Linked DNA regions of Homo sapiens. The protein of the gene in region 7 purifies or fractionates together with the protein of the main gene of each other region. This does not show direct contact. Each region holds a gene or a part of one and is shown on either strand. Other genes may lie near its edges.

The links.
Region 1: the proteins of MLF1 (region 7) and ERCC6L purify together in Homo sapiens (affinity purification with mass spectrometry; 3 studies listed by BioGRID and IntAct, with this or other methods). This does not show direct contact.
Region 2: the proteins of MLF1 (region 7) and CDK5RAP2 purify together in Homo sapiens (affinity purification with mass spectrometry; 3 studies listed by BioGRID and IntAct, with this or other methods). This does not show direct contact.
Region 3: the proteins of MLF1 (region 7) and AKAP11 purify together in Homo sapiens (affinity purification with mass spectrometry; 3 studies listed by BioGRID and IntAct, with this or other methods). This does not show direct contact.
Region 4: the proteins of MLF1 (region 7) and CCDC88A purify together in Homo sapiens (affinity purification with mass spectrometry; 3 studies listed by BioGRID and IntAct, with this or other methods). This does not show direct contact.
Region 5: the proteins of MLF1 (region 7) and KIF11 purify together in Homo sapiens (affinity purification with mass spectrometry; 3 studies listed by BioGRID and IntAct, with this or other methods). This does not show direct contact.
Region 6: the proteins of MLF1 (region 7) and CEP295 purify together in Homo sapiens (affinity purification with mass spectrometry; 2 studies listed by BioGRID and IntAct, with this or other methods). This does not show direct contact.

The regions. Positions count from the first base shown.
Region 1 is NC_000023.11:72,211,025-72,215,446, reverse strand, and holds part of ERCC6L (DNA excision repair protein ERCC-6-like), read left to right. Parts: intron 1-4,422. UniProt on the Homo sapiens protein: DNA helicase that acts as a tension sensor that associates with catenated DNA which is stretched under tension until it is resolved during anaphase. Functions as ATP-dependent DNA translocase. Can promote Holliday junction branch migration (in vitro).
Region 2 is NC_000009.12:120,391,518-120,395,835, forward strand, and holds part of CDK5RAP2 (CDK5 regulatory subunit-associated protein 2), read right to left. Parts: intron 3,122-4,318; coding exon 2,995-3,121; intron 1-2,994. UniProt on the Homo sapiens protein: Potential regulator of CDK5 activity via its interaction with CDK5R1. Negative regulator of centriole disengagement (licensing) which maintains centriole engagement and cohesion. Involved in regulation of mitotic spindle orientation.
Region 3 is NC_000013.11:42,278,155-42,282,576, reverse strand, and holds part of AKAP11 (A-kinase anchor protein 11), read right to left. Parts: intron 1-4,422. UniProt on the Homo sapiens protein: Binds to type II regulatory subunits of protein kinase A and anchors/targets them.
Region 4 is NC_000002.12:55,290,439-55,294,860, forward strand, and holds part of CCDC88A (girdin), read right to left. Parts: intron 1,338-4,422; coding exon 1,273-1,337; 3' UTR 1,238-1,272; intron 727-1,237; 3' UTR 1-726. UniProt on the Homo sapiens protein: Bifunctional modulator of guanine nucleotide-binding proteins (G proteins). Acts as a non-receptor guanine nucleotide exchange factor which binds to and activates guanine nucleotide-binding protein G(i) alpha subunits.
Region 5 is NC_000010.11:92,634,086-92,638,507, forward strand, and holds part of KIF11 (kinesin-like protein KIF11), read left to right. Parts: intron 1-3,098; coding exon 3,099-3,224; intron 3,225-3,301; coding exon 3,302-3,460; intron 3,461-4,422. UniProt on the Homo sapiens protein: Motor protein required for establishing a bipolar spindle and thus contributing to chromosome congression during mitosis. Required in non-mitotic cells for transport of secretory proteins from the Golgi complex to the cell surface.
Region 6 is NC_000011.10:93,664,411-93,668,832, reverse strand, and holds part of CEP295 (centrosomal protein of 295 kDa), read right to left. Parts: intron 2,152-4,422; 5' UTR 2,126-2,151; coding exon 2,018-2,125; intron 1,227-2,017; coding exon 1,026-1,226; intron 26-1,025; coding exon 1-25. UniProt on the Homo sapiens protein: Centriole-enriched microtubule-binding protein involved in centriole biogenesis.
Region 7 is NC_000003.12:158,577,190-158,581,611, reverse strand, and holds part of MLF1 (myeloid leukemia factor 1), read right to left. Parts: intron 1-4,422. UniProt on the Homo sapiens protein: Involved in lineage commitment of primary hemopoietic progenitors by restricting erythroid formation and enhancing myeloid formation.

The DNA.
Region 1 (4,422 bases), on a different chromosome or scaffold from region 7:
AAACACTTCAGCATATAAACTATTAAGTGGATTTCAATATTTGTTTAGTTTTTTTCTTTTAAAGTAAAATTTTCATACAAAGAAATGCACAAATCTTAAGTGTACATTTGGTGAATTTTGACAAGTGCATACACGTGTGTAACCCAAACCCCTATCAGGATATAGAATACTATTATCACCCCAGAAAGTGCCCTCACGCCCTTTCCCAGGCATTTTCCACCTCCAGAGGCAACCACTGTCTTGATGTTTTCCACCATATGTTAGTTTTGCCTATTTTAGAACTTGATATAAGTGAAATCACACTGTTGCTACTCTTTTATGCCTGGCTTTTCCTCAGCATGTTTTTGAGATTCATACATGTATAAATTCATACATGTAGTAGTTTGTTCTTTTCTATTATTGAGTCCTTTGTATGAATATATCACAGATTGGTGGGTTTTTTTGTTTGTTTGTTTGTTTTGAGTCAGAGTCTTGCTTTTTCATCCAGGCTGGAGTGCAGTGGCTTGATCTTGGCTCACTGCAACCTCCATCTCCTGAGTTCAAGCGATTTTCCTGCCTCAGCCTCCTAAGTAGCTAGGATTACAGGAACCCGTCACCACACCTGGCTAATTTTTGTATTTTTAGTAGAGATGGTGTTCCACCATGATGGCAGGGCTAATCTCGAACTCCTGACCTCAAGTGATCTGCCCACCTCGGCCTCCCAAAGTGCTAGGATTACAGGTGTGAGCCACCGTGCCTGGCCTAAACTTTTGTTTTGTTTTTTTTTTTTTTTTTGAGATGGAGTCTCACTCTGTCATCCAGGCTGGAGTGCTGTGGCATGATCTCGGCTCACTGCAACTTCCGCCTCCCTGGTTCACATGATTCTCCTGCCTTTGCCTCCAGAGTAGATGGGATTACAGGTGCCTGCCACCATGCCTGGCTAATTTTTGTATTTTTAGTAGAGATGGGTTTCACCATGTTGGCCAGGCTGGTCTCAAACTCCTGACTTCAGGTGATCCAACCGCCTCGGCCTCCCAAAGTGCTGGGGTTGTTTCCAGTTTTTGGCTATTAAGAGTAAAGCAACATTGTTTGTTTTTTTGACTCTTAAATGCCTGTCTTATAAATGGCGCTAAGCAGGGAAAAGCTAATTATTAAATATTGTTTGACTGAAATGTGAACCACATTTTTCCCTAATTTATGTCAGAAATCACTATTTAATAATATTGTTTGTGTTTATATGTGATTTTAAAATGATCCCCACCTTAATTAAAATGACCATCCCTGAAAGTGAAGCCAAAAGGAAGGAATCCTCCTAGCCTACTCTGCCATGACTTGGGCTTTAAATGGACCTGTTTTCAATACTGGCATTCAGGTCACCTGCAATTTTTATGTTATCCAAATGTTTTATGTTTTATTGATTTTGATGGAGAATCAAAAGACATCTGTTGTGTCTAATGCATCTACATGCATCTTGACAAGGGGACTGGACATAGAGACATGTCAGGGAGCAGATACTCCAGGAGCTGGATCAGTATAGGGAAACTGTTAACGGACAGGTCTTTGTTCTCAGAGCTCCCAAGATAGTGGTGGGCCGCTCCCAAGATGGCAGCAAGCCTTTTGTTCTCTGACCTGGGGTTCTTGGCCTCACGGATTCCAAGGAATGGAACCTTGGGCCACATGGTGAGTGTTATAGCTCTATTAGAAGCCGTGGGTCATGGAAGAGAACCGTGGAACCCAGCAACTAGTGTTCAGCTGGATTAGGACGAACCCGGGCACTTAGCCATGCAGGAACAATGGCGAGCCTTTAGCCCGATTGGGAGCGGCAATGGGCGCCTTGCTATATCAGAAACGCAGCGGACACCCTGCCATATCTGGAGGGGTGGAAGTCAGCGATGGGTCTGCAACGGTGGCAAACAGCAGTGGTGGACGGTGAGCGAAAGCTCAGCTCGAGCCGTAACAAACACAGACCAGAAGAGTGTGCAGTTGCAAGATTTAATAGAGTGAAAACAGAGCTCCCATACAATGGGAGGGACCCAGACGAGGTTGCCCCTCCCGGCTCGAATGCCTGGATTTATATCCCGATCATTTTCCCTCCCCCTGTGCTCTCGGGCGATATATGATTTGACTATTTCTTTACCTCCTGCTTTTAGCCTAATTTGTATTTCAGTGAGCCCTCTTTACTACCTGATTGGTTGGGTGTGAGCTGAGTTATAAGCCCTGTATTTAAAGGTAGGTGTAGTCACCTTCCCCAGCTAGGCTTAGGAATTCTTAGTCAGCCTAGGAAATCCAGCAAGTCCTGTCTCTCAAAACTGGGTTCTTGTTGAGAGGACAGCAATAACCCCACTCACATGCGCCGAGATTAGCAGGTCTAGGCTCCTCCACCCCTATATGGGCCTAGTGGCTGGTGGCCAGATTACAAAACAAAGAGCATTTCTGATTGTTTTGCATGTGAAGAAAACAAAGTTTTATTGAGTTAGGGTCTTTGCATTCAGTTCTCTGTCTCTTCACATTCTTTTTTTTTTGAGACAGGGTCTGGCTCTGTAGCCCAGGCTGGAGTGCAGTGGTGACACGATCATAGCTCAATGCAACCCCTGCCTCCCAGGCTCAAGCCATCCCTCCCACCTTAGCCTCCCAGTAGCTGGGTCTAGGCGCATGCCACCAAACCCGGCTAATTTTTTTTCTATTTTTTGTAGAGACCAGGGCTTCACTATGTTGCCCAGGCTAGTCTCAAACTCCTGGGCTCAAGCAATCTGCCCGCCTTGGCCTCCCAAAGTACTGGGATTAGAGGCTCAAGCCACCGCTCCCAGCTGTCTCTTCACATTCTAAAATAACTTTGTAGGGAATGTTCTAAAGGGCCCTCCATAGCAAGGAAAATCAAGTGTGTGTCTTCTGCAACTTAAGCTTGTGTGCCTTTTCAGCTGCTCATTTGTAAACACTGTGTGTTTAACTTAGCTTAGCTCTTTGGGGCATAGGTCTAATAGTATGGCTTATGGGTTTCTCCAGATAGAAAAACTTTTCAGCATCTGAACTGGCAGACCCTCTGTGGAGAAGAAAGGTTTCTCAAGGTATCAGCCAGTTCCAAAGGGAGGTGGATTAGATGTTGAGAGGTTAATTGGCTATGGTCAAGGAAAATGTTTGCATCTGAGGAAATAGCTTTGGGGCAGAGATGATTTTATTATTATTATTATTATTTTTTTTGAGATGGGGTCTCGCTGTGGTGCACGGTTGGAGTGTAGTGGTGCGATCTTGGCTCACTGCAACCCCCGCCTTTCACGTGATTCTCATGCCTCAGCCTCCCGAGTAGCTGGGATTACAGGCACCCACCACCATGCCCGGCTAATTTTTTTGTATTTTTAGTAGAGACGGGGTTTCACCATGTTGGCCAGGCTGGTCCTGAACTCCTGACTTCAGGTGATTCAACCGCCTCAGCCTCCCAAAGTGCTGGGATTACAGGCATGAGCCACCATGCCCAGCCACAGAGATGATTTTATATGGCCACTTGGGCAGGGCTTCTTATAGAGAGACCTTTAGGTGGGGTTATGACCCAGGGGGTTAGCAACTGGGCAGTTTTGCCAGCGAAAGTGTAGCTTTCCAGGTAACAGGACTTTGTAGCCCAAGTTTAATTGTTGTATCACCTTCCTCCAGGAGTTGTTTGTATATAATATTTCTTTTTTTTTTTATTTTTGAAACGGGTCTTGCTCTGTCACCCAGGCTGTAGTGCAGTGGTGCGATCATGGCTCACTGCAGCCTAGACCTCCCATGCTGAAGCGAACTTCTTGCCTCAGCCTCCTGAATAGCTGGGACTGACTACAGGTGTGTGCCACTGATATGGTTTGGCTGTGACCCCACCCATAATCTCATCTTGAATTGTAATCCAGATTGTAATCCTCAATCTCATCTTGAATTGTAATCCAGACTGTAATCCTCACGTGTTTGGGGAGACACCTTGTGGGAGGTGATTAGATGTCCTTTAAAATAATCCTTAAAGAGAAACATGCTCTAGTCATATAATTTCAGGTAAAACCATTTAAACATAAAATTTTTGTTTTTATTGTCCATTCCTATGGAATTAAAAACTGACATTTCACCCCATACTCTAGCACTATTCTTCTCCTTGTTCTCTTGCTTGAGGGTTATGGTTCTTTGTCCTGAACTGGTTACTCCTCCCTGTCCTCTTGGCTCCCAAGCAGGCCTGGCTTCTCCCTGCCTATGTTCAAGGAAAATAGGGGAGCAATTCTGGAAAAATACTTGAGCCCATGAAGTGTTAGCTAAGTTATCCAGATCATTAGGGATCCTGTGTGCTATAGATGGATAAATCATTACATTAGCAATAAAAAGGACATGTTTTCCCTCCAAGCCCTGAAAAATGGAAGTGATTAGAAGTTAAGTGGCTAAATCAAACTGCATTGTAAAAAGCATTCTAGTCTTGCAAATAATCAGATA
Region 2 (4,318 bases), on a different chromosome or scaffold from region 7:
TGGTTTCCAACGGTGGCCTCACTGAATACTCCCCCACCCTATGGGGCAGAACTACTGTCCTCGCTTTGCAAATGAGGACCTGAGGCAGCTGGTTCCAGGTCACATGGCCAGTGAGTGGCCCCAGGGCATCAGGACTCTTAGGGTCCCACTGGGATGCCTTTTCCTTACTTTCCCCTGTAGACTCTGAGAAGGTATGGTGTCAGTTTGACCAGGTAGCAATCAGCCCTGGCCTTTGCTCTTCCCCATCACCATGAGGGGACGGAGGAAGAGGAGGTGCTATGCCAACTTTCTCCTAGTCCCTTTAGACCCAGAGCAGGTCTGTGAAGTCCGCAGGGCTTGGAGAATTTCCAAGGACCTGACTCCTTGGGATGAGCTGCAGAGCCTGGCAAAGGAGGAGTTGCAGGCCCGGGTCAGCCACCAGCTATGCTGCCTGGAGCAAGCCCCTCACCCTGCTCTGGCGGAGCCTGCTCTGTGCCAGGCCTAGGAGATATGGAGATGGACAATACCAGCTCAGGAGGGGAAGTGCTATGAGACATTTGCGGCTCTTCTTACTATGAATGATTTGCCACCTCCATGCATAGGATTTGGTCTGGCCTAATGGAAAGAAAGAGGAGGGACTGGTTGAGCATCTCCTCTGCCCCCGAGACTGTGCTAAGTACAATACAGTTTAGGTAGCGTTATCATCCTTATTTTACAGATGAGAAAACTGGGGTGCTTTTTATAAAGTTGCTATTGAACCCGGGACCAACTAGTTAGTCTGAGTCCTTTGGAACTCACGTCTCCAGTTAGAGATGAGGAATCGAAAGCTTAGGGTTCTAGTCTAATGCAGGTCACATAGGAGAATGGAGATCTGAACTGTGCTCAATCAATAATTCCATGTTCTCTGACCTAGGACACAGGGGATCTGGGTTCTAGTTCTGTCCTTTTGACCGACCACAGTACTCAACCCATCGAAACCTACTTCTGCAATTTTCTCACCTGTCAATAGGGTTAGCTACCTGCCCTGTGACTGTTCAGGGCCAAAGGCTGCTGAGGAGGAGAGATGCCAATGCAGAGAGTTCTGCCTTTCTCTAGACCTATGCAGAGCATTGCTCCCCACCCCACTGCTGCTCCAAGAGTCTAACCTAAATATTCCACAGCTGCCTTAACAGGACCACAGCTGGCACTGTCTCTCTCCAGGTTCCCCTCAGTGCTCTTTTTCTCTACGAGTGACACGAAACCCTCAACCAGAACCCCACAGACATCCACCACTCTGCCAGGTTGACCTCCTTACAATCTTTCAAAACCATCCCTTCTCCCCCACAGTCCTGACCCACTGCCCACCTGGGGGACTGCTGCAGCCCCCAAAGAGGTCTTCCCGGCCTCCTGGCCCCTCCAAGCTCAGCCATGGGATCTTGTAATACACGCATGGACCCCGCCGGTCCCTGCTGCTCGTCCTGGAGTCCTGTCCACAAGGCTCCTTGCAACCTGGTTCCTGCTTCTCCCTCTCACTCATCTCTCAGAGGAAAACCCTTTGCACGTCCTAAGCATGTCCCTGAGCACTCAGTTCTCTCTCACCCCTGGGAGCACACCAGCAAGTCCACAGGGCCATCTGCCAGAATCCTATTCCTGCCCCTTCGCTGACAAATTCCTAGTCATTCTTCAAGACCCAGTCAGTCTTGAACCACCTCTCAGGCCTCCTAGGATGCACTCAGCACATCGTCCTGCAGCTAAGCTCTGTGTCTCCCCTATTAAGCCCACGACCCTCACTGGCAAAGACTGTCTCGTTCATCTCTGTCCCCAGGACCTGGCGTAAGGGGCAAAGAACAGGAACTCAGTGCCTGCTCAGTGGCTGCGCTCCTCTCTTTTGCAGTCCAAACACTGGCAGTCTCACAGAGTCTATTTTCAGAAGGTTCCCAGGGGTGGCTAAGGAGAACTCCTACTTGGCAATAATCTCTGTCCTGTGCTTCTCAGAAATGCCCCAGAAATGTTGGACTTTGACAGGAGAGCCGCACAAGGCAGGCTGGCACCTCCAGAGAAAAAGTGCTGCAGTCAGCAGTTCTCTTAAGACAGGGAAACTGACACACAGACAGCGCAGGCTTGGCCAGGGCCATGTTGCCAACAGGCACTAATGGAAACTCAGCTACCGCCTGCTCCTCTAAATGCAGCGGGAGGGAGTGCTGAGGGTTTAAACCAGGAGACAGAGCTGCTCCCAAACAATCTCCAAAGTGGCTAGATCAGAACTGGGACTGACCTTACAAAAGTTACTTAACCTCACCAACCCTGAGTCTCGGCATCTGCCTTGAGAAGTATTTCTCAAATCCATGCCCTCCTCTGGATCCCCAGCGTCCTAGCCACCTTTCCTGTCTGACTAGTGAGTCAGCCTCCCCCTCACTGGTGGAGCAGCCACCAGCGAGCCATTCTTGCACACAGATGTGACAGGCCAATCCTCTGCCCTGAGCCTGCCACCTACAGTCTTTCATGAAGTACTCCCTGACCCCCAATCCCTCCCACCTTAATTCACTGTTTGCAGCCTTTACCCCACAGGGACTGGTTTTGGTTTCTCACATACAAAAACTTATTTCCTGCCTTTGTGCCTCTGTCCATGCTCTTCCCTGAGGGACTGCCACTCCCCGCTCCATGTGACGACGTCTGCTTTCATTTCACACTCAGCGAGGTGGTCACTTTGTCTAAGACGCCCACCTTGCCGGGACAGAGTGACGGCCACCCAACTCCCACCCCAGTGCTCTGCATGTTCCCATCACTGCACATGCCACACGACTGTCTCCCAGTGAGACGACAGTCCCTGACACCAAAAGGCCGCTCTACAAAGGTGTGTTAAGTGAATACATTTGTCTATGTGAGTCAGAAAGGATGGAGTATGAAAAGAAGCCCACAGATAGGAGGCATGATTACAAACCATCTGGGCTCCAAAGTGGGTAATCCAGGGCAGAACTGGGAGCCCTCGGAGGCAGGAAGTGGTCAGGCATAGCGGCCACCCCCACACTCACTCACATTGATCAAAGATGACTTTTTCCTGGCGCTTGCTCAGCTGCAAAAGCTTCATGGTGTTTTGCAACTTCTTTTCTTGTTCAAACAATTTTTTATGTAGTTTGGTGACCTCTGCCTTCATTTCTCCAATCTAAAGAGAAGAGAAATTAGAAAAATGAACAAAGAACATAAACATCATGTTACACAGGAAGAATTACAAAGCCATATAAAAAGATGATGCTCAACCTCACTAGCAAAAATATTTGAATGGAAACTAGAAGCCTTTTCCTGACAACCAGGAAAAGGCAAAATTGGACAAAACTCATTGAGGGTAAGGGGAAAGCACCTCGTGACCTCTGGTGGAAGTGCGGGATGGCATGGCCCAGTGAGAACGCCCTGGCAAGATCTACCAAACTGAGATGCGCTTAACTCTTTGCCCCAGCAATTCTACACGCTGGCATTTCCCCCAAGGAATAATAACATAAGCACAAGAAGATGCCTATGTACAAGGATGTTCGTCTCAGCATTGTTCATGGTAGGAAAAAATAACCTGATTTCAGTATAGATCTGGATAAATTATGGTACTTACATATAATACAATAATTTAGCAACTATTAAAAATGACGTTGTAGAGCTCTATGCATTGATATCAAAAAATGATCACAGTTAGTGACAAAAGAGCCCAGAACAACACGTCCTGTATAAAAGGCATTCCTGTTCCACAAAACTGAATATAAACGCCCACATCCATAGATGTGTATATTGAGATGTCATCAAAATGTTAACAGCAATTCTCTCCATGAGCTATGATTTCAAATTGCGTGATCTTTTTCTTTTACAAAAACTATAATGCTGATTTTAAAAACTTTTCAATGTTTAAATCTTCAAAAGATCATATAAAAGTATTACTAGGAAAGTATGCTCCATTAGAAGAAACTCTTCTGGTTTTCCAGAGTAAACTCTGGATGGGTGGCAAAACCAGAGTCCCCAGTGCTCTGAGGTGACATACATGCACGGCGGAGCCCTCTGAGCCAGTCTCCACCAAACCAGCTCCCAGGGGGAAGGACACTCCCTTTCTGTCAGAAAAGCACCGTGGCACAGGCCGCTCTCTGCTGCGCCGAAACACTTCTGCTTCCAACAGGAGAGCTGGTGAGTTGTCAGCTCACGAAGAGTCACTTTAGTTTGTTCCCAAACTTGTTTATGGTAGCTGTACTTGTAATCAAATTGCATAATTTAATTAAATATTAAGTAAGCCCATGAAATATGTGTATTAAAAGAGAGAACTGGTTGTATGAAAACTAACATATGCTTCAGGAAAGACTTGATAAAAGCAAGTCACTAAAAAACA
Region 3 (4,422 bases), on a different chromosome or scaffold from region 7:
ACAGAGAACAGAGATATAGGGCACTTTAAATAAATACACATATCCTTTAGTCCTGCTATTTCACTTCTTAAAATTTATCCTACATATATACTTGCACAAAATTCACAAAGATATGTGAAAGACTATTCACTGAAATAAAATGAAAAAACTGAAAATAATCTAGAAGTTCATCAATTCAAATAAATTCACATGATTATTACTCAGCTATTGGAAATAATGAGTTAGAGTGATCCATACTGGCGTGAAAGAGCAAGTTGCAGAATGGTGTTAATAGGATGCTCTCACTTGTAATTTAAAAAAAAAAAAAAAAAAAAAAGACTGGCCTAGCACAGTGGCTCCCAGCACTTTGGGAGGCCAAGGCAGGAAGATCACTTGAGGCCAGGAGTTCAAGAACAGCCTGGGCAACATGGCAAAACCCAGACTCTACTAAAAATACAAAAATTAGCTGGGTGTGGTGGTATATGCCTGTAATCCCGGCCACTCGGGAGGCTGAGGCACAAGAATTGCTTGAACCCAAGAGACGGAGGTTGCAGTGAGCCAAGATTGTACCACTGCACTCCAACCTGGGCCACAGAGTCTCAAAAAAAAAAAAAAAAGAAAGAAAAAATTATATACAGACACAACTCTGACACACATATGTAAATATTTGTGCATCCACAGGAAATGACTTGAAGGAGGTACACTAAACTGATGCCAGTGGTCACCCATGCAAGTGGGACTTTTAAATTTTATAAAATGTCATCTATCTACAATATGAGAAGATGGTAGATCATTAAGTAAAATAAGACAGGTTCTGGCATATTAGCATTATCCCATTTTGTGAAAAATCTGTATAACTACATGTGTGTATCTATATATGTAATATAAAAGAAGACATACACTAGATGAGTACAGACATTGGTTTCATCTGGGTAGATACAATCATGGGTGTTTCATTTTGTGTCTATGTATGTTGAGTTTTGTACTTTTCTGAATGAACATAAATTCTTTTATAATTAAAAAATATATATTCTCCAAGTCTTTCCTTATCTCCTCTGACCTAAGAAATGTTCAAGTTGACATCACCTATTACTTGACCTTTTTTGTATCAGGAGAATTAACTATGCCAGTCTGTGAAGCGCCTGTCAACAATATTGCCATATCTTGACTCTCTTCCTACTGCACTAGTTCTCAAACCTCAGTACCTGTACACATCAGCTTATTTCTAACACACACAACTCCCCCACCAGAAGATCCAAATTCAACAGGTCTACATGGAACATAGGAATCTGTACTTTTAACAACTGCCACATGTAATTTCTGGTTGAGAAAAACTTGTCTCTCTGTATGTAAGTTTCCTTTCCTAAATTATTTCATAACTTGTTACTCAAATACTAATATTTCTTAGTCTTCATCCTTATCCTCTTGTCTCATTTTATTTAGTTTTTCAAGGACATTTTATCCTTACCTCTGGTTTTAACTATGCAAATAACTCCCTAATTTATTCTTCAGTTCTGTATATCTAATTTCCTATTAGACACTTCCAACTAAATATCCCAGTTACTCCAAAATTTGTATGTTCAAAAGGTAAATAAAACTTTCTCCCTAAACGATCTCCTCCTGTATTCTCTATCTCAGTAAGAGCCATTAAACCAAACCCAACCAGTAGGCCAAGCTGGAAACTGGTCTTCCCCTCAATTCCTACAGACTACCTCGCCTAGTAAATTGCCAAATCCTGACTTGTCATTCTCCTAAACTTCTCTCAAATCTACCCTCTCTCTTCCACCAGCTGAACTGCTACTTACTATTCACGCACCAGTTCAAAAACTTCCCTCCCTAAAATAGGCTTGGCTCATATCTCTCCTTTATCCCTCCTTGCCCAAATAGTAACCACCTCCTTTGTGCTCTCTAAGTGGTTTATAATTTAATCCTCTGGTGCCACTGTTTGCATACTTCCCTCCTGTTGTAAGTTCCATGAGGACAAAAGTGTTTTATGTATTTTTACATAGTAGGCATTCAAACATCTGCTGAACTAATAAATAAAAAGTAACATATTTAAAGAACAAAGTTCAAAGCATGATGTAGGCTGAAAAATATAAAACAGAATAAAGAGCAAAGTATGCCTTCAAATATTTAAATGAGTATGTCTACATTTAATGAGTTTGTGAAAATACATTTGTGTTTCCAATAATTTCTACTTTATAGTATCTGAGATCACATTTAGAGTAAACACTCCAAATACACATTTTGACCAAATGCCAAATGGCCAAGTGTTAAAAATTAATATTCTGTTGAATATAACTACAAGAAAACAGGACAGAATATATATGAAACATTGGTTTTAAACATCAGACAACAGGGAACACGGGATTGTGATCCCTGAGAGAAGGGAAACACTGGCTGCCAGCTACTTCCAGGTCACAATACAGGGACAGGAAAGCCAAGCAGTCTGGTGGTTTCACTGAGTTTTAAACACAGATCAGTTTGGAGAGACCAAGATGGCTAGAATTTACAGGGTATTAAGCTGGAGGGAGAGCTGAAAGTAAGTGAGAGCCCTAGAGATAAACCATAATATATTCCACCAGAATAGAAAAACCTTGTAATGTATCAGGTAATGATAGACTCCTCAGAAGAAGTAGCAGCCTTAGTAGAAGCAGCCTTAGTAGAGACAATAATTCAGCACTACGTTAAAAACTGTTCTGGACCCACACTAATAAATTCTAAAAGCAAGCCCTGAAACAACCCAACAGATTCCAAGTAACTGTGCACCCCAACTAAATCCAACACACTTCAGTAATATAATAAATCAAGCAAGCAACAGTATAAACTCAATGGCTGGCATACAATAAAAATTACCAAGCATGCAAAGGAAGAGAAAAATATGAACCATAACCAAGAGAAAAAAAGGCAATAAATGAAGACCTAGAAATGACAGTGATGATGGCAGGAACAGAAAAGGATTGTAAAACTATAGTACAAATATGTTCCATATACTCAAGAAGTGAGAGGAAAACATCACCATAAGGAGAGAAGGAGAAGATACAAAAGACACCAAAATTGAACTTTTAGAGATGAAAATTAAATATACTGAAACGAAAACCATACTGGATACAATTAACAGATTAAACTAGAGAAGAAAAGCTCAGTGAACTTGTAGACAATGTAATAGAAGCTATCCAAAATGAAACATGGAGAGACAAAACTTAAAAACAAACGTAGAGTGTAAGTGACTTTTTAAGCACCATAAAAGGTGAATAACTGGAGTTCCACGAAGAGACATAGTGAGTAAGCGAGTGAGTGAGTGAGAGAGAGAGAGTGTGTGTGTGTGTGTGTGGGTGTGCACGTGCGTGCACTGGGGAAGTGGGTGCAGAAGAAAAAAAAATTTGAAGACAAAATAGCAGAGAACTTCCCAAATTTGATGAAAACCGTAAACTGACAGTACCAAGGAAGCTCAGCAAACCCTAAGAATAAACATAAAGAAAGCCAAGGCAAATCATAACCAAATGGCTGAAAACCAGTGATAAAGAAAAAATATTAATTGACCAGAAAAAAAGTACACATTATATACAGAGGAACCAAGGACAACAGACTTCACATCTATATGAACCGGAAAACAAGACAATGGAGCACTATCTTCAAAGTACTAAGAAGAAGAAAAAAAAAAAAGCATCAACCCAGATATACTCAATGAAAATGTATTTCAAAAATTAAGGCAAAATAAATTTATTCACATGAATAAGGGCCGTGAAAATTCACCACCAGTTGACCACCACTAGAGTAACTATGGAAAGAAATTCTTCAGGCAAAGTAAAACAATACCAGATGGAAATCTGAATCTTACACGAAGGAATAAAGAACATCTGAAATGGTAAATATGAGGGTAACAGAAGTTATTCTTCATTTTTCAATCCCTTTTAAACAGTTAAAATATAACTGTTTAAAAATAGTAACAATTAATTAGAGGGTTTAAGACAGACATATTGATAAAATGTATGACAAAATAGGATAAAAAATGTGGCAGGGGAGATGGAGACAAAAAAAGACTGTCATAGATTTCTACATTAAACATGAAGTGATGTTATTTGAAGAAAACCTGTAATAAGTTATCTTGTAAACCCTAACACAAACACTAGAAAAATAAAACAGAATAATACCTAATAGGTGAACAGCAGAATAAAAGTGATGTTATCCCCCTTTTTGCAAATAAGGAAGCTAAGTTCCTTTCTTGGGTACAGACCTGTTATTTGACTTACAAAATCTAAAACTACTACAGCTATCAGATACTATTTTGTTTTTCAAAACAACAGTCAATCGTATAAAATGATTTTAGTATGTCTTAATATCTATTAAGATATTTGCTTCTTTATAGTTTCTGCCTTTTTCCTTTTTAATCCTCAACCTCATTCCTGCATTCACAATATATATGTTCTTACCGCTACAGAG
Region 4 (4,422 bases), on a different chromosome or scaffold from region 7:
CTTACTAAAAAAAAGTTTCAGAAAAACACTCTTTACCATGGGTTAACTTATGAATGCTTAGTGTTGCTTAATGGGAAATATGGAAAGATTAATATCACTATAAATTTTTTATAACTCCTATTTCATTATGGATTTTTCAGATTTATCTTATAAACTGAATTTCTTTTGCATCAAAATAATTGGCTTTAAGAAAAAAAAAGTATCAACACATGCAGTCTGCTAACCAAATAAGGCTCTGACATGCCAAAACAATTTTCTCTGTATCTTGCTATATAGTACATTCCACAAAATACTACAGCATTTAATTTAGGTTTACACAACTAAATATAAATGGCTAGATTTTGGCTAACACTTAGCAGAAGCATTAAGCAAACATGGATAAATTCATAAAACAAATGATGAAAAAAGCAGATTGTTCTTGGAGTACTTCTTTAAACACTTAACCTTAAAACACCTGGTCCTTAGTGAGAGAACGTCCTTTATTCAGTAGATCTTAACAGTACAAGGTATAGTAAGTCCTAAAACCTTTAAAAAATTTTGGCAGTTGAATCCAGTAGTGCTCCTTGATTCAAGGAATGAAGGTTTGTATTTCTTGCCTGCTCTATTCACGAAGGACTGTTAAAAGTCTCCTTAAAGATTTTTAAAAATGATTCCTATAGTTGCTAGGTGTCTTGTTACTTCAGAAATAAAGGCTTCATACTGAGAAACTGAAGGACACTTTTCTCTCTGTATTTAGTTGGAAGGTAGAAAGAAGAAAGAAAATATAAGAAAAGCTTAAAGATAAGAGAGACACAAAATACAGAGCAGCCACTATAAGAACAGCATGCACCAGGTATTTCTATAAGAATGAGAATGACAGACAATCAGAGATAATTTTTGAGTGGCTCATCATAGAATAGGCATTTAGTCATTAATTTTCAAGAAAACTGTGGGGAAGTTGTATTCCTACCACAAAAGGCTTCAAACTAAAAAAGTAATTCCTAGAACATAATTCACTAGTAAAATTAAATTTAAAGTGACAAAAAAACTTAAAAAAAAATACTTGTTCCTTGCGCTGACAGGTAAAAACCTATGGCAGCCAACTAATCTTGCTTCACTAGTAAGTAGAACAGAAAGTCAATGAATTAAGCAAGCAATATTTACATCTGTTAATGCAATGTGCACTTGTTTCACACTTAATTTGGTTAGTTTGTATAAATGAGACTAATCTCATTTACATTTTAAGCAGGAAACTCACCACTTGGCCCACATGTCATGTAGTGGGTAATAGAATTAGGAGCTTTGTTGCTCCCTAGACCTGCTTTTTGAATTTCTGCTTTCTTGTACTTTGTCCACATCTGCAGGAGAAAAGCATTTCATGTTATTTAGTCAAAGATGAAACAAAATACAATTCAGAAGATAAGAAATACACTCTCACTGAGTAGGGCAAGGAGAAGGAATCTGTAACTGTCTGGGAAAATTATTAATCTCATAGGCATCTCAATACTTAAAGATCGATTTTTATATTTTAAAGCTATAAGTAATATTCCTAGGAAAGCTATAATTTTTAAAAAAACTATAACAATTACATTTCCCCCCCTCTTAGTGCCAGATAGCCTTACTATGTTTATTTACTAAATGGTCACCTACAGTCTTAAACATAATCTTGCATGTAGTAGCAAAACCATCTGGAATGAAGTATTTGTATTATTTACTAAGAAAACCAGGGCTTGATGCATATTTTATAGGCAAATAATGTTCCTCCTTACATTGGTTAAAGCTAAAATTGCTTTGGTCAAAGGGGATGCAGTGCATAAGAATATGTTTATAATTTCTAGAAAGCTAGGCCAGGAATACTGAAAGCTATCCAGCTTCATCATTTATAAAATTAGGGTACTGAATCTTCGAATAGTTTTACAAATAATCCTTTTGAAAACTGGAGGTGTCTTAGAGGAAATAAGTGCAATTGCTCAATTGAGTCAGAGTTGTTTCACTTTTACTTTAAATGAAATTCATTTTTTAAAATTTGGGGCATCTATGTAAGATTTCACTTACAGAAAGTATTGTTTTTTTTCTTAAATGTTTGGGACACATCGGTTCCATATGATTTCTAAGGTATTTTCACCACTAAAAATTTGATTCCAAATGCTATGAAAAAACGTTGATAAGAACTAGTGTTGTGGCCAGTCGCAGTGGCTCACGCCTGTAATCCCAGCACTTTGGGAAGCTGGTCAGGAGTTGGAGACTAGCTTGGCCAACATGGTGAAACACCGTCTCTACTAAAAATACAAAAATTTGCTGGGCGTGGTGGCATGCTCCTGTAATCCCAGCTGCTTGGGAGGCTGAGGCAGGAGAATTGCCTGAATCCAGGAGGCAGAGGTTTCAGTGAGATGATATCACGCCACTGTACTCCAGCCTAGGCTACAGAGTGAGATTCCATCTCAAACAAACAAACAAAAAGAACTAGTGGTGTTTTGGGGGGAATTTTATGACTCCACAGCAGGTGATGATTTCTGAAGTCCAGACTGTATTTTCCAACAGTCCTCAGGACACATGGACATGATACATATTTCTCTTATATGCACAGTGTATTTTTTTTTTTTTTGGAAACATGCTGCATATAAACATATAGCTTTTTGGGTAGGAAATAGTTCTTTTCTGTAAGTCTAATTTTGTAAAATAATCACATAATTTTAATATAATAGCATGTGATTTTTCAATGAATTTTGAATGAATAAATACAATATTTTGAAGTGTTATGGTCAGAATTATGATATCTAAAAAGTTGAAATAGCTGTGAAATAATCTTTGACTCAGTGTGGAAAAGAAATAACACTAATTATAACATTTGTGTCATATACTGCCCCCATTTAATCTCAGCTATGTTTACTATTAAGTTTTGTTACTGGCCTATGAAAAAACAAAAGGGAAAATATTAGCACCAAATATATTTGAAATGTCAGGACTGACTGGGAAGTAACTGACAATAAAATAGAAGGATGCAAAAAGTATATTAGGTGGTACTAAAATATGACAATCCTCTGATTGTGTTCATTTGATTACCTGTACCAGAACCATTTTTTTTTTTTTTTGTAATAGCTATCGGAAAAAAAGTGTGATTACAAAGGAGACAAATTTCATTAGGAAATATTCTCTACAGATTTTTTCTTTGGTCCAGTTAATAACCACTTAATACAACAACAACAACAACAAGTATAACATAATTTCATCCCCACATGGTCACATTTGAAGGCATTCCTTCCAGGTGCCAGGCTGAGTCCTTATCAGCTATAGGCTAAATCCAAATGGCAAAAAACATTCCAGAGAGAATGCCAATGTGTATTTCTCTGGAAGTAAATGGATCAGGGTTATGGGTTTTTTTGTTTTTAGCAATCTGGGAGTTAGAGATTCAAATTTAGCTAATTTGCTTTAAAAGTGCTGTGAACACAAAAATAAAAGTTCTTTGCACTGGAGTCAAAGTTAACAAATATTTTCTTACTTTTTTTTTTTTTTTTAAGCTAAAGAGTGTATTTATTCTTAGTTCTAAAATTTGTTCTACTAGAAACATACTTGTTTAAATGGTTACAAGTTCTAATTTTACATTTTAGTGTGATTATTCATTTAAAAAAAATTCTGTTTTAAGGATATACATGTATAATTTAATAATAGATTAATTATAGAAGTAACAATTTTTACCACTTTGTAAACTTGCTACCCTTTTTGATTAGAAGTAAAAATACAAATTTCCAACACAATGAATATAATTTGGTTTATTTCTCTTTGACTCTCTATAAAAAAAGAACTGGAAAAACTATTGTATTAACTGATTTCAAGTATAGAAGCCATCTTGAAGAAAAGACAGTTACTTGAGCTCTTGTATTTATCAGATGATGAAAAGTGCAGAGAAGAAACAATAAATACAAATGTTCCTAGTCACTGTGTAAATCACATTTAAATTTGATGGGGTTTTCTAAGAATAACACTAAGTTTATAAGTATTAACAATCTTTTAAATCTGAAAAATGTTTTATAAATATGGGTATTAGTTAATATTTGTTATATAAAGTGTTGAATTATTAACTATTTCTTTAAAACAGGACAGATGGCCTAATTAAATGACAAAAGAAAACAACATCTTTTTACATTTTCCCTACTGATACTGTACATATGTAATATAAAGTACACATTCTGGAAGAAAAAAAGGAGTGACAGTCAGAGCAAGTGAGGGGTGGGAAGAGGAGGAAGGGAGGGAGGAAATGAACATTTTTTTCCAGAAGCAACAAAGCAAATATGACTTGGAAATGTCTTCTTGGTAAGAGAGCATGCAACTGTTTTAACATGCTTCTGGATATCAAAGTAACAATCTTATCAGGCAACAAAAAATGTGAAGGAGGAGCATGTATGGTTAAGGTTTTTAAAGGCATGCAGAAAATGGACAAAGTAA
Region 5 (4,422 bases), on a different chromosome or scaffold from region 7:
CCATTCTCCTGCCTTAGCCTCCCGAGTAGCTGGGACTACAGGCGCCCACCACCACACCCGGCTAATTTTTTGTATTTTTAGTAGAGATGGGGTTTCACCGTGTTAGCCAGGATGGTCTTGATCTCCTGACCTTGTGATCCACCCGCCTCGGCCTCCCAAAGTGCTGGGATTACAGGCATGAGCCACCGTGCCCAGCCAGCCTCTCCTTTTCTTTATTTGTATTTATTTATTTTTTTCAGCCTCTCCTTTTCTCGGCTCACTGCAACCTCTGCCTCCTGGGTTCAAGCAGTTCTCTTGCCTCAGCCTCCCGGGTAGATGGAATTATAGGCATGTGCCACCACGCCTGGCTAATTTTCGTATTTTTTTTTAGTAGAGATGGTGTTTTACCATGTTGGTCAGGCTGGTCTCAAGCTCCTAACCTCAAGCAATCCACCCACCTCGGCCTCCCAAAGCGCTGGGATTACAGGCGTGAGCCACCGTGCCCGGCCGAGAGTACGTTTATATTTTTAAAGACAGATCTCTCCACTGTTTATTCTCTCCCAGAAAGATTATTTTCAAATGTATGGAACTAACTTTTGAAACCTTTTTCACTCATGTCTTGTAACATTAGGAGTAGCAGTTATTAGTGAGGCTTCTAATGACTAAAGGGCAAGTTTAGCACCACATGATATCAAGGGACTTGTTAGTTGGCCCAGAAATTGGCAAGTCACTCTTTCCCCAGGGGTCCTGGACCCAACCAGAAGGGGATATTGGGTAGCTGATTTTAAAACTACAGTAATATATGATAGTAATAATGGTGCAAGAAAAATATCTTAGAATTCTGGGGACACATATCACTTCTTAGGGTTAGATCTGTGTGGCCCCTTCTGGGCCATAACTATAAATCTTTTCTCCAGAGTTCTATGGAAGTCACTCATCTAATTGCACTTAATATTACCTCCTTCATACTTGATTTATATATAGTCTTTATTTTATAATTGTATGGTTGGTCTAGGAAGTTCTTAGCCATATAATTTATTTGTTTTCTTTGTGCAGAGTCTTTGCCTCCCTTTTTCAGCTTAACAATATTTATTAAACATTTTCCAAGTAAATACTACAAATGTTAGCTGACCCTCTGCCTCAATTCAGTGCTTAGATGACATTATTTGATAGGTTTTCTCAATCACCCAAATTTGACAAAATTAAAAGATATCCTGTCAGTACTAACTTTTCAAATATTGATTCATTCATTAAATGGTGGTCTGTATATATATAGGCATACTTCAGAGATATTGCAGGTTTGCTTCCAGACCACTGCAATAAAGTGAATATTACAATAAAGCAAGTCATGAATTTTTTGCTTTCCCGGTGCATATAAAGGTTATGTTGACCAGGCGCAGTGGCTCACACCTGTAATTCCAGCACACGCCTGGTGGGACAATCAGAACACAACGTTTATCAGTTACATTTGCTGTCTTATAGGGGTACAGTTTATGGTACCCCAAGACAATTACAATAGTAACATCAAAGATCATTGATCACAGTGTATAATGAAAAAGTTAGAAATACTGTAGTAGTTACCAACATGTGATGCAGAGACAGAAAGTGAGCACATGATATTTGAAAAAAGTCACTGATAGACGTGCTCAAGGTAGGGTTGCCACAAACCTTCAATTTGTAAAAATTTGGTATCTGTGACACATAGTAAGGTGAAGCACAATAAAATAAGCTATGCCTGAATTGATACATTTCTACTTACCAAGTTACAATTTTTGCTTGAATTAAAAGAAAAGAGGCATGTTGCTCTCACAAAATTAGTTGAAATTGGTATGCTAGCTCTTCTTTCCAAAAGAATGTCAGTAGACCTATAAGTATTTACTAATGTATTTCTGTTATACTTCCTCAGCCCTATCCTACCAAAAGGAGATTAGATCAGGATTTTTTTTCTTTTTATAAATATTTCCAATCTATACTACATTCTTAATTTCCCTATTTCTTGACAAGAACAACATCTTTCACAAGTTCTTCTGATACAATAGGATGTAAGTCATCTCAGATCTTCAAAGTTAAGTACTTCCAGCCCAAGGGCTAATCTTGATGACTACTTGGTCTCAGCCTTTTTGACTGGTAACCTAAACTTGTTTGAAATTTATTTTCTTAAAATATACCTGTAGGTTTTTAAAAATTTATTTTGTTTGGAGTGCTGAAATCTTATTAACTGTCATTTTCCTCTTTTGAATTCTTCTGACTTCTATTTCATTAAACTATTAAATAGTTCTGGCTGGGTGCGGTGGCTCATCTCAGCACTTTGGGAGGCCAAGGTGGGTGGATCACTTGAGGTCAGGAGTTCGAGACCAGCCTGGCCAACATGGTGAAACCCTGTCTTTACTGAAATACAAACATTAGCTAGGCGTGGTAGCAGGTGCCTGTAATCCCAGCTACTTGGGAGGCTGAGGCAGGTGAATCGCTTGAACCCAGGAGGCGGAGGTTGCAGTGAGCCAAGATCACGCCATTGCACTCCAGCCTGGGCCACGAGAGTGAAACTATATCTCAAAAAAAGAAAAAAAGAAATTCTGTGTTTTCACTGGGCTTGAAAAAAGAGAAATTATTATATTTATTGTAATATAATAAATTATTGTATTATTGTATTGATTTATCTATGTAGAGTATAAAAAATGGAGAATGGGGCCGGGCGCGGTGGCTCACGCCTGTAATCTCAGCACTTTGGGAGGCCACGGGGGGCGGATCACCTGAGGTCAGGAGTTCCAGACCAGCCTGGCCAACATGGCGAAACCCCATCTCTACTAAAAATACAAAAATTAGCTGGGTGTGGTGGCTCACACCTATAATCCCAGCTACTCCGGAGGCTGAGGCAGGAGAATCACTTGAACCCAGGAGGCAGAGGTTGCAGTGAGCCAAGATGTTGCCACTGTACTCCAACCTGGGTGACAGAATGAGACTCCGTCTCAAAAAAAAAAAAAAAAAAAAAGAATGGAGAATGGAAATGTAAATTTTAATGTGAATGTTTAGCTACCAAAGTATTTAAGATATCATTTAGAAAGGTTTACAGAAGTGGAAATATTCTTTTTAAAGACCTATTTGTTTATTTCTGAAACCAGAATGTACTCAAGACTGATCTTCTAAGTTCACTGGAAATGATTTTATCCCCAACTGTGGTGTCTATACTGAAAATCAATAGTCAACTAAAGCATATTTTCAAGACTTCATTGACAGTGGCCGATAAGGTAACAAATGCTATGTTCTTAATATCTCAAAATTGATGTGTTGTTTAAGAAGGAAACTCATTTTTGTTTCTTCAAAGATAGAAGATCAAAAAAAGGAACTAGATGGCTTTCTCAGTATACTGTGTAACAATCTACATGAACTACAAGAAAATACCATTTGTTCCTTGGTTGAGTCACAAAAGCAATGTGGAAACCTAACTGAAGACCTGAAGACAATAAAGCAGACCCATTCCCAGGTATGTTGTTTAGCGGACTTGGGGAGTACAGAAAGAGAGTTTTAGGATGATTTGATATGACTTGATAATTAATCTATGTTACACAATCTGAATACTGTAAAAGCTGAAACCTGAAAATACCATAGCCACTGTTGCTTATAACAGTAATTATTGTAGAACAATTGAGAATACTTCTCTTAATATTTGAAGTTTTGCTACATCTAGAACCCCATGCAGAACCACAATATGACAAAACAGTCCTTTTCTCACATCAAGATGAAAGATGAATCTGGAAAAACATACCTTTAGAGAAGAATGGTTATAACATTTAAAGTGAAAATGTATCTACATTAAAACCTGCTAAGTTGTTTCTAGGATGGCATGGATAGTTGTCTTTCATAAACCAAGTCCTACTTTCTCTTATTTCTGTCTCACTGATAGACATTTAAAACATAGTAAATCGATACAACTTTTAATTCTTATTGATTATAAATGTAATTCATGATTTATCTTCCCTGTAAACTGTTCCTCATTATATGAGGCTTTAAACCAAAACCAAGCCTTCAAACCATAATCTGTAAATATCAGATATCTGAAAAACAGCTTCTGGTATTCTTAAGACTTTAATAATGACTGTCTAAAGTTTTATTAAATGAGCTTATTATAATATGACAGAACTCTTATAATAGTTAACATTTATTGAGCAATTCACTGTGTTTATTCCTCCCATCAATATAGATATAAATTCTATTACTAGTCAGATTTTTAATGAGGAAACTGAGACCCTGTGAGCATCTAATAGTATGTAGATCATCTTGCAGAAGGTGGTAGTGATCATACTACCTGAAAAGCATCCATGTTTGAGTGGCTCTTTTGTGTGTTTTTTGGCAACTTAAAACTGCAGCATTTTCTCATACATCTACATAGGGTATTTCCCTTAAACCCGTTGAGAACTTTTTAGGTGTATATTCTAAGGCTGATCC
Region 6 (4,422 bases), on a different chromosome or scaffold from region 7:
GTGCCAAAGCATCCAAATCAGGTTCCTAAAAATATATATTACTTAAAATGTCATGTTAAACAAGAATAATAGAAATGTGTCTCATATGATATCAGAAGTGATTTATCAATTTTGTCATCTTCTTTCTACATACTATAGCAGTGTTTCCCAGAGCATGACAACAGTACCACTGATGATATGCCATATTAGGGGGGACAAACACAAACATTTTAATGTAAAGTTAATGCAATCAATTAACATTATTACAAAAATATAAATAGGATATCGAACTACTTAGGACATGGTTAAAGTACGTAAAATATATAGTGATATGGGTAGTTTCCCAGTCAGGGCAAAAATTGTGAACATGGTATTCAAATAACAGAGGTTTGGGAAACATTGCATTAGGCACAAACTTAATGTGGCATGCATAAAACCACAAAAACCTGAGTCAGAACTTACGGCTATTACTAAAAACACAGACTAAAACCAAGGACCATGAAACAGATTGCCACAGTCTTAAGATATTTTCTTTCTCACTAGTTGTTATCAAAGATTTACCTTCTTTGTAACTAGCTTGTTTACTGTATGTGACTGATTCTGGGACTGTAGTATTTCCACATCATAAATCACAATAAATCAAAATAATGGGGCAGACTTACTGTGACTTTCTGAAAGTCATCAAAAAATGTTTGTTGGGGGGTTGAATTCACCCCACCAAATCTGTCAAAAAATGCCTGAGATGGACAACAACTTCTGATTCAGAAGATTATTATTTCCCCAGATAGAGGAGTACTGGAAGAGAATAATGCTAACTTGAACATCATAGGAAGACCAATTTTATTTGACATGGATTTTACTTGAAATAACTCTTAGTAAGAAATGAGCCTATTATTCACAAATTACATTAAATTTATAAAAAAGTTCAAGCTGCCCCAAAGAAATTCAATGCATGAAAATGTTATCAGAAAAGCATTCAACAACTATAATTTACTTTTTACTAATATTACTGCCACAACAGGGTAGTCAAATAAGATCTCACTCACATTTTCTTTGGCCTGTCGATGTCCCTCTCCCATACTTCTTAAACTTGCCAAATACAGTTTTTCCAAGTTCTGTATTTTCTGAGTTTGTGATTCTTCCCATTCTGCCCTTAGCTCCTCTGCCAAACGTGTAAATTGTTGATTTCTCCTCTGTTTTATGTCTTCTCTTATCTGTAAGGCGATATCTCTTTCTTGTTCTCGAACCTAAAGAATGCATATTTAACAGGTTATATGAAAGGAGGTTTACTTAAACTTTTTTGAAAAGCTATTTGGAAAGAGGAACTCAAATGAATTCTCTTAAGTCTGTCAACTCTCTTTGATACTCATCTTGTATTAGATAAAGACTATTTAAAGCAGAAAATCTGAGTGAATGTACAAAAAGTAAAAATCTCAAGACTATATCTAATGTCTCCAAACTGATAGCTTTTATTCAGCGCCCACTCCCAAAAGGACTGCCATTATCACTCTAATAACCTATAAAAGCTAAAGCGATAAATATGATTCAACAAAATCTATAGCCCAGAGTACAGACAGAGCCAGATGAGAACTCCATTTCTGTTGTACATCATTTCTGATTCTAGACAGAATGGTGCCTGAAACATACTTCACAAAAACTTACTTTAAAAACACTTCTAGAAAAGGGTTATCTGCAATTTCCTGATAAATTTGTTTCAGCAGCTAATAATCTTTCCAATTAGCATTCTTCAAAGTCATCTAAGCTTCCTGTTACCAATTACAGACCATTTTTAAAAAAGATAAAGAGCTATTTTCAATATTCGAGTCAAATAATACCTATCTTCCAACTCTTCTACAATGTACTTAACCATCTCAGCCTATTTTTCAAGTGTTCCAAAACTAGTTAATACCAAATAACCAGGGCTCTCGTATACCCAGAAGAGGTTTTTAAATACAACATTTAGAACACTCTAATGTAAAAGAATACAAGTAATTTGAGGAAGAAAGGAATTTAAAACTTTATTACAAATAAGTCATACCTGTAGCAATCTTAGTTTTCGCCTTCTTTCATAATCTTCCTTCAAAATGAAGGCTTCCTCATTAGGACTCAATCTCAGCTTGTGAGTATTCACGACTTTTCTCTTCATTTCTGTGTACTTTATGTATGACAGTTCTGAATTCAAAAAGGAAAATGTCTATAAAAATAATGTAACATTAAAATAGGGCAGCAAAGATTAGAATAATTTTGTTTGTTTTTTTTTGAGACAGAGTCTTGCTCTGTCACCCAGGCTGGAGGGCAGTGGTGCGATCTCAGCTTACTGTAACCTCTGCTTCCCGTGTTCAAGCGATTCTCATGCCTCAGCCTCCAGGGTAGCTGGGATTACAGGTGCATGCCACCACGCCCAGCTAACTTATGTATTTTTAGTAGAGATGGGGTTTCACCATGTTGGCCAGGCTGGTCTCGAACTCTTGGCCTCAAGTGATCCACCTACCTCAGCTTTCCAAAGTGCTGGGATTACAGGCATGAGCCACCATGCCTGCTCAGAAAATTTTTAAAATTCGTGTTAATACTTTTGATATTTAAAGGGTTATATACATGCAAGGAAAATTTGAGTAAACGAAGTCCAACTTATTTACAAATAGCAATTATAAATTCACACTTAGATCAGTGATACTCAGAAGGGTGGGAAAGTGGAAATGAAGACTGAATCAGAATTACTCAGAAAAGTTTTCTCCTGTTTATAGCAGATTGTCTACCTCGAGTATCTGGACCTGACTTATTCCTGGTTAGCATTTCCAGAGTTTACTGAGCTTAAATGTGAAAAAGCACAAAGACCTAAAAAGATGTTAGCATAGAATAAATGTTTTCAAAACTATAATCTGACACTTTAGAACCTTCATAACTTGTTCATAACTAGCAAGGTTGCTGTAATTTCAAGGGTTCTTTGTTCCTAGATTCAACTCCCAGTCTACTGCATATAACTTGATCACCAAGTGTCATTGTTACCTCATGAAATCACATCAATCCCATGTTCTATAATCTACAGTAAACAATTCTTCAATAATTATAGTGACGTAATTTTTATATGAATGACTTGCTCGGCTGTATCAAGCGTTTAGTTTTCCAGATCTATTCTTCTTTTTTTTGAGATGGAGTCTCGTTCTGTCGCCCAGGTTGGAGTGCAATGACACAATCTTGGCTTACCACAACCTCCGTCTCCTGAGTTCAAGTGATTCTCCTGCCTCAGCCTCCTGAGTAGCTGGGATTACAGGCATGCGCCATCACACCCAGCTAATTTTTGCATTTTTAGTAGAGACAGGGGTTCACCATGTTGGCCAGACTGGCCTCGAACTCCTGACCTCAAGTGATCCACCTGCCTCAGCCTCCCCAGTTGCTGGGATTAAAGGTGTGAGCCACCACGCCCGGCCCAGATCTATTCTTCTGTTGCTACCGTTCACACTGTGTTCTCTCTCTCCTCCCTAGATTATAACATGCTCCTATTTGGGGGAACGAGGCAAAAAGAAATGGAATAAATATAAGAATCTATAGTTCTATAATTTGAATACCCTCCTCAGGTAATTCTGATATTAACTGGCTCCTATTACTGCCATTTCCAAAAAATTAGACACTTTACATGAGTACATGAGCATTTTATCTGAGACAATCAACATTTCTCAGGTCTCCCTCACAATGACCAGGCAGACAATCTCAGTTACTGAATATTTACATCTTTCTAAAGCTGGCTTAAGCCCTCCTTCCTCTACGAAGCTGTCCTCTGATAATTCCTGTTGCAATTTCCCACTCCTGATTTGCCCAACTCTAATACATTATTACCTATACATTCAGATGGGGACTAATTTTATGTTGTCTTGGTATTACCTCCTGTAGTTTTTCATCAATTACAGTTTGCTCTTTCTAGTTAGATTCCTAACAATTGAAGGACAATGGCTATGGGTTTTTTAATAAAAATTTTAATATTCAATTAAATTTAATAAATAACTACCAGGTAATATTTCACATACTATGGATGCACAATGTTTTCAACCAGGTGTAAACAGAATAGGGGCTAGGAGACTGTGGGATTACCTAACAGGGACTAATACCTTTCCAGTGACTTCTCCATCAGAATGTAAGCTCATCAGGGCAGAATGGACTTATTCACCATTTTATGTCCATAGCCTGAAAACAGTGTCTCGCCCATAGGTAGTTACTTCAGTAAGTGTGTTGACTGAATGAATGACTCAATGAGTTAATTTATGTGAAGTGCTACAGAGCTATACACAATCATCACAACCTTCAATAAGACTCTAACACCAAAAAGGACTAACTGCTGGCATTAAAAAAATCTTTTAATGCATCCTACTCATCTAATATTCACACGGCTTTGGTAATGGTAACTAAAGTACTGATTATATTTTTCATGCTATACATGAAGAAACAAGG
Region 7 (4,422 bases):
ACCTTTAGTAATGTAGTGGTAAGGTGTTGTGGGAGGCAAAGTGTTCTGTAGTCATAAGATTAACTCACAGTCTTTGGCTTAGCCTAGCCTTGGGTTGTAAACTTCACCAGTGTGCCTTAGTCCTCCCCTCCAGTGTGATAACATGGCTGGAGGAGCTGGAGTTGGGTATTTGCCTTCCCCCAGGCAGACTGGGCTTTGGTAAAAAAGTTTCTCTTGACTGCAGGCCTTGCTAAGAAAAACAGAATGCTCTGGCATATTTAATGGTTACTTTCCACCCCTCTCTTCTGCTGGAAGCATGAGAAGATTTTTTCCAATATTCACTGGGAGAACCTGGTAGAGCTCCTGGAGGTAAAACTCACAAAATTATGGGGGACCATGGAGTTCTTAACTCTGACACTTGTCCACTCTGAGTCTCCAGTAATTTGTCAACTACAGGTCAGGTTTTCCTACTACCCTCGCACTGGTTCCTGAAGAGGTTTCTGCACCAGTTAAGTTGTGATTCTCTCTATCTGCCTATCTCCAATTATGGGGGCAGAGATTTGCCCTGTGACCTCGATTCTCTGCTATATACAAGAAAAGTTGTTTTCTCAGGTTGTTCAGTTTTTAATTTGTTATTAGCGTGAAGTGGTAACCTTAAGCTTCTTACATGGCATATTATTATTTTGAGACAGAGTTTCATTCTGTCAGCTGGAGTGCAATGTGGCATGTTCATGGCTCACTGCAGCTTTGACCTCCTAAGCTCAATTGATCCTCCCACCTCAGCCTCCTTAGCTGGGACTATAGGCGTGCACTACCATGCCTGGATAATTTTTTTTTTTTTTTTTCTGGTAGAGACAGGATTTTGCCATGTTGCTCAGGCTGGTCTCGAGCTCCTGGGCTCTGCCCGTTTCAGCATCCCAAAGTGCTGGGATTACAGGTGTGAGCAACCATGCCCAGCCACATACCAGATTCTTGTAGGATTTTTAGTATGAGTTTTTGTCTTGAGGGGCAAAGGAAATTTAAGACTACCATTCCTAGATTTCCTACCTGTTAAAAGTTTGAGAATCACTATTCTAGCAAAATTATATGCAACAAGCACTATAAAGAAGTTGTGACAATTTATAAATTAATTTTAATTTAAAATCTCAGTGTGTACAGATCAATAGTACACACGGAGCAGCTCATGTTTTAGCACACTAGAAGGCAGAAAGGGAGTCGTTTTTTGTTTTCCAAAATCAGATTATGAAGAACAAAATTACTTTAAAATTAGTAATTCAAAATTTGGCATACGTATCACTCTACTTTTTTTTTCCACCTCACAAAATCTTTCTTTTTTTTTTTTAAGTTCCGGGGTACATGTGCAGGATGTGCAGGTTTGTTACATAGGTGAACATGTGCCATGGTGGTTTGCTACACGTATCAACCCATCACCTAGGTATTAAGTCCAGTATGCATTAGCCATTTTTCCTAATGCTCTCCCTACTTCCACCCCACTCTACTTTTTATTTGAAGGTACAGAGTTTCAAGTAGTTCTAAAATGCACAAATGAGTTACCCATGGAACATTTTCTAACTCCTACCTCAAAAACCAGATTATTCCAAAGTATTCGTTATACCTTTGCAGTATGTTTGAAATATTTCATAATAAATGTAACTGCATGAGGTTAAAGGATTTCATACCATTTGATGTTTTAAAACAGGCATTTCAAAAGGAGGTCCTTTTGCTTACAGCTCCAAACTCACTGGACATTTACAGCTTAGAGTATGGTTAAAGTATGGAGACTAAAATGCTTGTTCCTATTAATATATACTTACTTAGGAAAACCAGTCAACTTTTCCTTTAGATATGTAGATGTGATTTGACTACAATGAAGAAAAGTATTTCAAGAAATACTAAATTTGTTCTTTGAATAAGGGAGTGCTAAACAGCTATTACTTTTCTACAGAATCAAAATTTAGTAAAATTAATTTTTCTCATTGCATTATAATTGGGCTAAAAATTAATCAACAAAATATGGCTCATTTAAAATTTGCCTGGGTTTTTCTTTCTTTATATAGAAGTAGGGGAATATTTAAATGTTTATTTGAATATGTGTATGTTCAGCAAATGCTAAAAATTTTATCTTTCTGAGTGACATGAACAAATGACTGCCTGTTGGAAGATGCACTAAACAAAAGCGAGCCTATAGTCTGGTGTTTGCAACTGTCTGAACCATTCAGGAAGAAATCTGGCTGAAACTTCTAGTGAGTTTAATTCATGTCTACCCAGAAAGGCAGCTGCTTGGAGATAAGGCTTTAATGTTTCTCTTGTCCAAGTTTGAATTCACTTTTATCAAAACTAAAAAAATTCTATGGTAGCACACAGTTGTTTTAATATTTTTAAAATTAACCTAGGCTTTTTTTCTCAAATGAAAAATTTTAGCCCATTCATAATGTTCTCTTTTGAAAATAAAATTTCATTCTTCTAGGAAAACAAATTGGAAATAGGAGGTTTTAAAAAGGTCATGCTATACAAACTAGTCATTTCATGTACACAAAGAGTCTAAGGTAATAATTTGAAAATGTTGTTAAAGATTTATGTGAGAAATATGCTTTGTATGTTCATAGGGTGCAATATTTTGCAGACTCTAAAGTCATGCTTTAGTGAATATCTAAAGACCAGGAAAACGTTCATGGTATATGTTGCAGAAAAGCATTGAATAATTAACCATAAAGTGTGGTCCGAATTTTGGAAAATAAAAATCCACATGTGGACATCTGAAACAAAATACATCAAAATAATGGGTTGTATTATTTCTGCTACCAAACTTTCTATACTTTTCAGATTTTCCATGAGGATGTATTTTCATTTAGGTCAAGAAAAATGTACTTTTACTCACTGATGACTATATACCTCCTCTCTTAGAATTGCTCACACAAACCACAACCAAACTGAATAAACTTTGGTCTCAAACGTACTTTTTCTATTCTATATTATTTACCTTCAGCATATATCACAAGGCAGGAAAAATAAATTGTTGCCTACTTCCCCTTCAAAAGTGTTTATGTCTTAACTCTTAGATTGATTCCAGGTCACTTGGGAATGATTTCAACATAGTGTGTACGTGTGTGTGTGTGTGTGTGTGTGTTTGTATGTATGTATGTACATACGTACATACATGTGTTTAAGGGCTGGTAATGTCTCCCTTTAGAATAATTTATTGTTTTTAAAACTCTCTCAAATACATATGTACACACACACACACACACACACTTATTTTGCCTAAGTTACACTTCTTTTTCATCTATATAAGAATATAGATACTTGTGCTTCTAAGCAAAGAGCATTACCTATTACATAAGGTTCTCAGATAACTGACATGGCAGGCTCACTCATTAAGGGAAATTCCTCCCTTCCATTATACATGGTAGTGGCAAAAGCTTAGCCAGCAGATGGTTATGGTTCTCTTGATCATAAAGAAATGTTCCCTAGTTTCAATGAGGTAGACTGGTCTATAAGGAAAATAGACCAGAAGATCCATGTTTTGATACTAGAAATAATGCATGTAACATTCAAAGAAGGATCTTGAGGGCAGGAACCAAGACATCTAAAAATTTAAAAGAGAACCCACAGGGTTCGGCCTATAGTAGAAACTGAAGAAATATTTAAAGAATGAATTACATTTTTATTAAGCAATTCTATTTTTCCATTGTCTTGAAGTACAAAGTGTTGGTGTGGCAAAAGCCTTTGATATCAAAAAAATTGTGGAAATGATTATGCTCCCCTGATATTCTATAAATAGTTCACTCCTTTTTCATGGATATTTACAATATTAATTGGCAGAAGTAGGAATTATCTTGTGGGTACATGCTACTGTATGGCATTTTTGACCCAGCAACCATGTCCTAGTCATGCTGTGTTCCTGGGCTCCTAATTCAGTGGTGTTTACCTCATGAACCAAAGAATGCCCCAAATGAATAGTATACCTTAGAAATCCTTTCAGCACAAGGCTTACAGTGTCTCATTCTTTCAAATATGATCTTATAATTTGCAAAGTTCATTTATAAGAAATTTATATATTAAAATATTCCTAAGAACAATTATACTAGGTAATTTCACAGTAGGTATTCAGGGTCTTAGAATAAAGTGGGACCTTGAAAATAAGTAACTTAAATTTTAGCTGAGTATTCTCAAGCTACTTTTATCAACTGTTTAGAATGAGAGGTATATGTGGCAGAATATTAACTAGAGCCAAGCTATGACAATTTGGCAGAGACTCTACCTCAGACTGTACGTCTAAACAAGTATTTAAGTAGTAACCTTGAATACTGTTTCCAAAAGCTTAACAAGGTGGTTTTATTTCCTTCAATGAGAATGTTTTCCATCAATAAAAAAGTTAACCCACATCTTGTACATAGAATACATTCACTTTGAACTCCATCAGTGGATAGGACAAAGCAATGT